2 linked regions of the Homo sapiens genome follow. The protein of the gene in region 1 purifies or fractionates together with the protein of each later gene. This does not show direct contact. Each region holds a gene or a part of one and is shown on either strand. Other genes may lie near its edges.

Region 1 (5,702 bases):
CTGTGGGAGGAAGCCTTGGGTTGCTCCCTACCCCAGGAGATGCCAATGGACAGAGTCCTAGAGGAGCGAGGTTTCTAGACTGGCTCAGTAGCTGGGCTGTGGGACCAGCCCAGGGCATCCACAAGGAAGGAAGCAGGAGCAGCCCTAATGGGAGGCCTCAGCGATGAAGCCTGGGCCAGCTCTGCACTCAGGAAACTGCCGTGGGGCCTGGGCTCTCCCTCGGTGTGGCAGGACACCAGTCTCACCAGTCCACACGCAAACACACACCTGCACCCTTGCCCATTCCCTTCTCTGCCCACACCATGACCTGCTCCACCACTCCCACAGCAGCCCTCCCTCCCTCCACATACGGCCTCCTGCTTCTCCCCAAGGCTATGACTGCCTTTAGTTCTGCGCTAGGCCTATGAGCTTCCCTTCTGGTGCCATCCGGTGCCCAGCTCCTCTCCCGCCAGGCCCATCCTCCGAGGTGGGCAGCCTCTTCCTGGAAGACAGTTCCCCAGGCTCCTCACCGCACCTCAGCTCAGTGCTTTCTGCCCACAGCTATCTCACCATATCACCCAAGGTTAACACTTGTCCCACATCACCATTGTCAACACCAGTCTTGGTGGTCCCCCTCCAATATGCCCCCACCTTGGACCCTGGCAGCTGCTCTTTTCTTTCATTTTCTGGAGCCTGAGTCTCAGAAAGAGCAAGTTCTGGAATCTCCAACCTGTCTCCCACATGGACCTAGGCACTCAGAGAAGCACTTTTTAAGAGGATTAAATCCATGATTACAGCTCTAGCCCTAGCACATCCATTATTTCTGGCCCTGAGGTGGCCTGGGGAAGTGTTAGCAATGACCTCTGTAAAGTGCTAGGAGGTACACATCTGAGAGCTCCAAGGACTAGCTAAGAGCCTCTTCTTGCCCCTTTCCCTGCTTCTGTCCTTGCAGGAAAACCCCTCAAGTGACAGTGATGGGGATGGTTGACAGGCAGGTGTCTTTAGGCTGGAGGGAGGCTGTGGTCAGAGCTGGCACCTGGTCATCTGCGTCTCCCAGCCGCCCACCAGCTGGGGCAAGGTTGGAGGGAGGGGCTGACCCCGGCAGGACTCACTCTCCAGCACACATTTTTAATATGCAAGTTAAATAAATATTTCAATCATTTAATAGCCACCAGTCTGATACCCACTTCTAAGAGGACTGCCCTATGTCACAGTCCTTTCCTCCCTGCCCCACCTGGGGGTGCAGTGGAGTCCCTGGCTGCCCAGCCAACTGGCCCTGGAGGTACTGGGGCCTCAGCAGCACAGGCTAGAGAAAGCCCCCCACCCCCGCAAACCCCCAGCCGGAATCCCAGTCTAGGCCACTAATGGAGCTTTCTGAGAGTTAAGAAGACAGACACCACAGCCAAGTGGAATACAAAAATAGAGCCTCTCTTTTGTTTTAAAAAAAAAAAAAAAAAAAAAAACAGCAAAAACCCAACAGCAAACAATATCAACAACCGGAACCCAGGGCTCCCCCAGCACCTCCCCAGCCTGCAGAGCAGCGCACAGCTCATCTTGCTTGAGTTTTGGGTGCCCTACAGGATGAGCCTCTCTGCGGTCTGGCATTGTGGGGAGGGCCAGGCAGCACCTATCGGGGCTCGGGGGCCCAAGTCCTCTGGCTGCCGCGCAGGCTGCGCGTGAAGGGCGGGTAGTTGAGGAACTCGAAGCGCAGGCTCTGCTCGGTGGTGTGGTGGCCCCGGGGCAGCCGCTTCATGAAGTGGACCTCACGCTGGTGCTGCCGCGTCTTGGAGCCCTTGCGGGGCCGGCCCTTGCGGGTGAAGGCCATGTACCAGCCCTCGTACTTGGCATTCTGCAGCGCTGTGTAGTTGTTCTCCAGCACAATCTCCGTGAAGACGCAGTCCTTGCCTTTGCCGTTGCTCTGCAGGTAGGGGAGCCAGACACCACGTTACAGAGCCCCCCCAGCAGAGGCAGAGGGCGAGCGGCCCCAGACAGCAGGTGGGCACCCCAGCAGATGGCGAGGTGGGCAGGAGCCGCAGCCCCACCCCCTGCCTGGGCACCCGCTCTCTAATCCCTCACAACTCGCAGCCCACCCGGCAACTTCCTGTCCTCCCAGGCAGCAGTGACACATGGTTGTCTACGGAGGGGCTGGGCCCCAACGCAGAAAGACAGAGAGAGGGGCCCAGAGCCTGGCCTGCTCTGGCCTCCTGCCCACCAGTCTGGCCACCCGTCTCCCCACCTGCCCCTCTCACCCCCCCAGGACTTCGGTTCCCTGGCCCCAGGGCAGCCACCCTATGGGGGAGGGGAGGCCTGGGAGAAGATGCTAAGACCCCAGCCCCAGAAGCCCAGGAAGTGGGGAGCTCGAGGCTGGAGAGGAGCCGTGACTAATGGAGCCATTTCAGAGCTCGGCCGAGGGGCTGGGCCTGCGGCTTACTGAACATTCCAAATGCTGGTACCATGTAATTGGACATAATAGCAAAGCAATTTGGCGATTTGTTAAAAAGATATATGGAATTTACCAACCACCACCCCCCAGCCCCTTCCCTAGCCTTCATTCTTCCTCCTTCGCCTTTTATAGTTTTCATCTCTCAAACAGCTTCCTTCTCCCTCACTCCTGCACCCAATCGTGAGGTAACCCCAAGATGGCCCTGTGGCCTTCTGCCTACCTTGTTGGGATCAGAGCCCAGGACTGTCTTGGAGGAGTCCAGCCAGCCCAAGCCACTCCCTAGGTCCCGCGGACCCCACCTGCCTGCTGGGGCCTCACCTTGGCGATCAGCTTCCCCTTCTTGTTCATGCAGATGTAGAGGCCCGTCTCGGCTCCTCGGACTCGAACTCTGCTTCCAAAGGTGTCCGTCTCCACGATGAGCTTTGCTGTCAGAGAAGGTAGCAGGATGGCTATTGGCAGATCCCTGACCCCAGCTGGCCCACACACTTGTCACAGCCCAGCAGCAACTGCTCCAAAGACCAGGAACCCAAAACATGGACTCCAGCTCCAGCCCAGCTACTAACATGCTGTGCAACCCAGAGAAAGGGCTTTTCTGGACCTCGGGCCCCACCCCTGGGTTTACAGAGGGCAGTGGACGGGATTATGGTTTTCAAACTGGGTTCTCAAGAGAGGTCTTGGGACTATCAAATTGAAAAGGCTGAAGTGCCATTCCTTCCACCCTCTTTTTAAACCAGACAGTGATGTCTCTTAGATTGAGGATCTAAGTAAAATTTAATTGAATCAGAGTTCCATAGCTAATCAAAAGATCTCCGAGGATCCTTCCAACTCCAAATATTATGTGTGCGTGTCTCACAGGTCATTACAAACACTTGGGTGAAGGGGTGACCTCCAGTCCCAAGGCCAAAGATGAAAGCATTGTCTCCTGTTTCTGCCACTTTGGGTTCTAACTCACAGCTTTGGCCACCCCCAGCCCCTCAACATCACCAGGCTCTGCTCTGCTGAGAAGGTGCTAGGGATGGGGACAGCTCTCCCTAAACACACAGCCCAAAGCAGGCTGCTTTCCCAGAACCTCAGACACCTGCCAGGAGGATCCTGCCTCTTCCCTGTGGCTTCCCAGTCACCAGGGTCCCCAGCCCAGTGTCTAGAAATCAACAACTCAATTGTCTTTTCTCTTTCAGCCTCATCACAGCTGGGCTTCTCAGCCCAGTGACCAAATAGCTTCTGTGGGTGAGGAGGAGGGAGAATCCTGCCTGCTGGCCTCTTAGACTGGAGGCCAGGAGGCAGGGCTGAATTCTATGCCTCCTTTCCCATTCCCCTCCCCTTAGACAGCCAACTTGCCACAGAAGCCTGTCCTGTTCACCTCTCTGTGCAATCATCTCTTATAGGCTGTCCTCAAGAAAGTAGTGAGGGTGACTTCACTGTTTAGGAAGGGACAGAAGGCGCTGGCTCTCCTGCCGTCCCTGCCGCAGAGCCCAGCCTCTCCCCTCCCTGAGAAAGCAGTTCTTGGACTTAGCCTGCATTGACATATGGCACCTCCTCTGTCCCTGAAACCCATGGCAGGGGTTTGGGGCATCGAGGTCAGCAAGTCAGTCATCACTGCTCAGCTTGTAATGTTCCCCGCTTCACACAGGCTCAGTGCTGGGACCAGTGGCCAAGCCCCCGGTTTGGCCCCAAGTCAGCAGGGAAATGCAGCTGTCACCTCCCTGCCTGCCCACCTCCTCCTGGACCTAGCCAGTCTGCTCATCCCTCTCCCGCTCTGCCTTCCACAGCAAGAGGCAGCTATTTTTAAGGGCCAGGAAGGATGCTGACTGGAGGAGTGAGAGGATGCCACTCTGGGGATTCTGGCCAGATGCGGCAGGCAGGGATGAAGTAGGTGCCTCTGCATCTTCCTGGGGCCGGTAAAGAAGCCATTGAGACCTCTCTGCTATTCTCCCCGGACTACTCCTGTCCTGGCTGAACACCCTGAGCCTCTGTTCTTAGGGCCTCCAGCTCCTATCCTGCTGTGGGGCAGGGACTAGGGAAGGCGGGAAACCTCTTATATGGCCACGGAGAGAAGTGGACATCAGGCTTCCTCTGATGTCTGAAGATGAATTCCCCCACACCAGCTTGACTTCTGCTTCCCTCCCCGAAATCCAAGGATGCTGGGCCATTTGCTCTGACAGAGCAAACCCTGGAAGAGCCAGGCATTCGTCTCCTCTCCTTAGAAGCTGAGAAGGGCAGCAAGCAGCTAATTTGGAGGGACAAAGGGATGGTAGGCCTGCTCTGCCAGCCCAGTAGGGGAGCTCGGCCACCAGGCAGGCCGCCCCCACCCCCACCCCAGAAAGCCCGCTCTCTCCCATGTCGGTTGAATCTGCTCCGATCTGGGGAGCTGGGGCCGCAGTTTACGGCAGCTCTCCCGACCGGGCTTTTGGAAAGCTTAACATTTTCAAACCTATTCTTCCACCCCAGTGACAGATTTATCCCAGGAAAATTATGTCTCCTCCAGCTTTGAAGGGAAGTCAGCTACGTCGATGCAGAAAAAATGCAGCGAGACATACTCGATCCCCCAAACTGGCTCAAGAAGAGGAGAAAGTATTCAGGAAATGTTAAAAAAGGTGAAAGTAAGAAGAGTTTTAATCGCTCTGCCAGACGCAGGGGTCTCTCCAGAGATTCAGAGAGAACAATCTTGAACCTCTTTTTTAACATTTACAGACTTGCAACTCCTTTCAAACTCCACATCTGAAAAAAAGCTCGTTCTTTTTCTGTTTTATATCATTCTTCATTTTTCTTCTTAGCTCTTAAAATGCCTCACCTTTTTATTACATTTTAATAGAGTCTTCCCCTCTCCTTTCATGCTTGTTTAACGTGGTCATTATTTAAAGGTTTTTAAACTCACAATAATCGCTCTCTAAAAACAACACCAGCCGCCCAGAGGGCTTGCTTTTCTCTTGGTACATCCAGGACTCTGGAAATTGGCCCCGTTTCAAGGCAGGAATATTGAATGTTTTAGAAATCAATCAGTCCTCAGCCTCTCTGCCGGCAGTAGCTCTCCGCACTTGCCACCCCACAGGGAGCCGGGAGCCCTGCCCCAGCCGCCTGGGTTCCCCAGGGAATGGAGCAGGGAGAGCCCCCTTCCAAGCCCAGTTTCCACGTGTAAATTGACCCATCCGATTAAAGTATTTAAGGGTTCCCAGCAACCTCCTTTTCCAACTGGGAGAGTTGAGGGGATTTCTCTCCCTTCTCTTTCCCACTCTCCTTTTGTGGGCCCTGGCGACATATCCTCTTTCAAGCGCTTGCCTTA
Region 2 (4,835 bases), on another chromosome or scaffold:
GAATGGTTCTTCAAAGGAATGGTTTGCAGTCAAGTAACCATGTACAGTATTAAGTCAGATTAATTTGATAAATATCTAAAGTGTTTTGATCAGCATCAAAGTGTTATATTAAAGAATATTAAATATGGCCAGGCGTGGTGGCTCACACCTGTAATCTCAACACTTTGGGAGGCCGAGGCTGGTGGATCACGAGTTCAGGAGATCGAGACCATCCTGGCTAACATGGTGAAACCCCGTCTCTACTAAAAATACAAAAAAAACTAGCCGGGCGTGGTGGCAGGTGCCCGTAGTCCCAGCTACTCGGGAGGCTGAGGCAGGAGAATGGTGTGAACCCAGGAGGCAGAGCTTGCAGTGAGCCAAGATTGTGCCACTGCACTCCAGCCTGGGCGACAGAGTGAGACTCCATCTCAAAAAAAGAAAAAAAAAAAGAACATTAAATATATTTATTATAGTTTTAAAATGAAAATATCATCCAACATTTTTATCCCAAGGACTATAAAGCAAAGCAAAAATAGAGAGGTATCAGTGAAGTGGCATCAACCCTCTGGTCTAATGCCACTGAATGGGACCAAGTATTGAAGATAATTACTTACCACATTTTGGTTAATAAGATGCGCCACAAATTTTGAAGCAGTCAGGCAAAGTTGCTGAAAAATAAAGGTGGAAAGTTAACCTATAAACTAAACCCAATTTTCATTTATTTACATAATCTATGGCCTACTAACATCATCTATTTAAAACATGTACCACACAAGTATAATTTTTACATTATAAGAAAGTTACAAAATAAAACACATGAAAGAGTATCCCTTCTGGTTAAATAGTTATAGTTCTACAGTTATAGCCATCATTTTTGTGGCTCATCAATAGTGGCCAGGGATATTTAACAGATCAAAGAAGTTCTCATGAAAGACAGTTTTTAAAAAGCATTATGTTATGTAGCTGTGTCAAAATCAACCTTGCTTACTTTTGTTGATACTGGTTTGTTAGTTTGTTCCTATGTATCATTCTACTTACAAGCCATTCATATATACCTTGTCATTTCTTCGATAGCCTTTTCGAAAATTAAGAATTAACCTTTTGAGGATTAATTCTCCAATTTGTGGAAATTTTGAGTTGATAATTGCCACTAATGCTGCATAAACATGGGTGAAGATTGGAGAAGCACTCTGTGCTTGCAAAACAGACCTGGACAGCAGTCCTCTGTTTAAAAAAGAATTTAAAAAGGAGTCAACAATAATCACCAAATTAATTAAACGAAACAAAAACTATTAAAATTCAGTAATATTTCTCTATAAGTAATCATAAAATCTAAATCAGAACTAACTGGAAAGAGTTTGTCTTACTAATAAATAAAAATTGTTTTTCAGAAAACGAAATGTGAATTTGTGATTTTGTAAAATAGAATGAAGATTTTACTGCAATTTATCACCAAAATTTTTCTCTCTACATATAATTCCTCTTTTCCCAGTCTGTTATATCTAATCATGAATTTGAACCTTAAAAAGGTTCATATAAATAATTTCTTTAACATTTTTTAAAAAGTAAACAAAAGCAGACCTGCTTCAAAAGTATAAAAGGTAGATAACATAAAGTTTCTACTACAGATCTGTCATTTTTATAAAATTAATTTTGTGATTAAAGACAAATTTGGGTTTAAATCTTTAAGTCTAATTTTAGTAGAATAAAATGAAGATGTGGAATACTCCTGTGAGAAATAAAGAAACGAATTAAAAGCAATGCCAGATTAATGCTAAAACAGTAACAGGAAATTAAAAGGTACCTACTTGTAACTCATTTTGAAAATGGTCATGTTTCTATATGCATTTGATGAGGAAGGGGAAAGGCAAATTGGGCAAACTAAAGTTACTTTTAGCAATGTAATGACAAGTAATTATTGGATTGCCAAAAGTCAGGAAAAAAAGTCTTAATGGTAGTTTTAGATATGACAACTGAATCACTAGAGTGGAAAATAAGAAAAAGGATGCAGCTTATAAATTATAGTATCTTTAGCAATCCATAACTCTTCTAAGTCTACTTTTTTTCTAAGTAAATTGGAGAGATCTCTGCCCACTTTTGAGGATAATGGCTGTCTCTTGATCAACTTTCTCTACCTCTAAAACTTGCTGCTCCTACTTTATACCCCCACCTTTTTTGGAGAGGTTGGGGAGAGACAGGGTCTCACTCTGTCACCCAGGCAGGAGTGCAGTGGGGCGATCTTGGCTCACTGGAAGCTCTGCCTCCTGGGCTCAAGCAATCCTCCCACCTCAGCCTCCGGAGGAGCTGGGACTACTGTGTGCCACCACGCCCAGCTAATTTTTGTATTTTTCATAGAGACAGGTTTTCACAATGTTGCCCAGGCAACTCCTGGACTCAAGTGGTCCTCTTGCCTCAGGCTCCCAAAGTGCTAGGATTACAGGCTAGGATTACAGCGACCGTGCCTGGCCACTACATTCCATATTTTTTTAAAGATGAATCATAGTCATGTAAAATGACATGAGAAAACAGCCCTCAGATTTTAAAATAATAAATACAACATGGAGTAATTCTATTTTCTGACCCTTTTAAATATCACCAATTGCTTAAAGCCACATATTCTTATAGAATACGGTGATTCCCTTCTGCTTTTCTAAAATGTATTGCTCATCTTTCCCATTTCTCTCACATTCCCATTTCACTCTCACTAGAAATTAAATTGGAATAAAGGCCATATATGACGAACCCATAGCTAATATACTCAACGGTGACAAGCTGAAAGCTTTTCCTCTAGGATCAGGAATAAGAAAAGGGTGCCTACTCTTTCCAATTCTATTCAACATAGTACTAGAAGTCCTAGCCAGAGCCATTAGGCAAGAGAAAGAAATAAAAGGTATCCAAATCAAAAATAGAGAAGCCTGTTTGCTGTAAACAGGATCTTAATATAGAAAACCCTAAAGACTTAACCAAAAAATTGTTAGAACTAATAAACTAATTTAGTAAAGCTGCAGACACAAAATCAACATACAAAAATCAGTAGTGCTTCCATATGCTTACAATGAACTATCTTTCTGAAAAATCAAGAAAACATCCCATTTACAATAGCTATGAAAAAAAAAGTTAGGAATAAATCTAACCATGGAGATGAAAGAGCTGTACACTAAAAACTACAAATTGCTGATGAAAAAATGGAAGAACATGCATGACATCCCATGTCCATGGACTGAAATAATATGTTAAAATGTCCACAGTACCCAAAGCAACATACAGACTGGACTCAATCCCTATCAAAATTCCAGTTACGTTTTTCACAGAAATAGAAAAAACAATCCTAAAACTCACATGGAACCACAAAAAACTCCAAATAGCCACAGCAATCTTGAACAAAAAGAACAAAGCTGGAGGCATCACACTCCCTGACCTGGAATCTGCTACAAAGTTATAGTAATCAAAACAGAATGACAATAGTATAAAAACAGACACATAGAGCTACAGAGAACAAAGAAACCAGAGATAAATCCAGACATTGGCAGTCAACTGATTTTCGACAAAGATGCTAAGAAGACACAATAGGGAAAAGACAGTGTCTTCAATAAATGGTGCCAAGAAAACAGAATACCCAGATGCAGAAGAATGAAAATAGACCTTAGTCCCACAGCATATACAAACATCAACGCAAAACAGATTAAAGACTTAAACATTAGACCTGAAACTGTGAAACTACTATAAGTTTCTAAAAGAAAAATACAAAGGAAAAGCTCTGAGACACTGGTATGGTTAATGATTTTTTGGATATGACCCCTAAAGCACAGGCAACAAAAGCAAAAAGAGACAAATGGGATTACATAAAACTAGAATGCTTCTGCACAGCACAGGAAAATATCAACAGAGTGAAGAGATGACCTACAGAATGGGAGAAAACATTTGCAAACATACACCTGATAAGGGGTTAATATCCAAAACACATTAGGCATTCAACTCAATAGTAAGAAAACAAATAACCCAATCTAAAAAATGAGCAAACAAGAACAGACATTTTTCAAAAGATGTACAAATAGCATATATATATATATGAAATGCTAAACCTCACCAATTATCAAAGAAATACAAATTAAAACCACAATGAGACATCTCACAACTGTTACAATGGCTGTAATAAAAAAGATGAAAAATAGCAAGTGTTGCCAAGGACATGGAGAAAAGAGAATGCTTGTACACTGTTGGTAGAAATATAAATTAGTACAGCCATTATGAAAATAGTATAGAGGTTCCTTAAAATATTAAAAACAGAATTACCAGCCAGGTGCGGTGGCTCACGCCTGTCATACCAACACTTTGGGAAGCCAAGTCGGGAGGACTGCTTGAGCTCAAGAGTACGAGACCAGCCTGGGCAAGATGGCAAGACCTCATTCTCTACAAAATATTAAAAAATTAGCCCAGTGTGGTGGTGAGTGCTTGCGGTCCCAGCTACTTAGGATGCTGAGGTGAGAGAATTCCTTGAGCCCAGCAATTCAAGGGGGCAGTGAACTATGACCATGCACTGTACTCCGGCCTGACAATAAAGCAAGACCCCCATCTCTAAAATAAATCAATATAAAAAAAATTTTTTTTTATTGTAACTACCATTTGATCCAGCAATCCCACTATTGGGTATATATACAAAGAAAATGAGATCAGTATGTTGAAGAGGTATCTGCACTCCCACATTTATTGCAGCATTATTCACAATGGTGAAAATATGGAAACAACTAAAGTGTCTGTTGTGAATAAATGGATAAAGAAAATGTATACATGTATAATGGAATACTATTCAACCATAAAGGAAATCCTGTCATTTGGGAAAACACAGGTGAACTTGG

Evidence for each region.
Region 2: the proteins of FGF8 (region 1) and CWC22 purify together in Homo sapiens (co-immunoprecipitation; 3 studies listed by BioGRID and IntAct, with this or other methods). This does not show direct contact.

Annotation. Positions count from the first base shown.
Region 1 is NC_000010.11:101,768,723-101,774,424, forward strand, and holds the end of FGF8 (fibroblast growth factor 8 isoform F precursor), read right to left. Parts: intron 2,855-5,702; exon of another isoform or gene 2,848-2,854; coding exon 2,741-2,847; intron 1,975-2,740; exon of another isoform or gene 1,898-1,974; coding exon 1,607-1,897; 3' UTR 1,387-1,606; downstream 1-1,386. UniProt on the Homo sapiens protein: Plays an important role in the regulation of embryonic development, cell proliferation, cell differentiation and cell migration. Required for normal brain, eye, ear and limb development during embryogenesis.
Region 2 is NC_000002.12:179,972,600-179,977,434, forward strand, and holds part of CWC22 (pre-mRNA-splicing factor CWC22 homolog), read right to left. Parts: intron 1,204-4,835; coding exon 1,035-1,203; intron 648-1,034; coding exon 594-647; intron 1-593. UniProt on the Homo sapiens protein: Required for pre-mRNA splicing as component of the spliceosome. As a component of the minor spliceosome, involved in the splicing of U12-type introns in pre-mRNAs. Promotes exon-junction complex (EJC) assembly.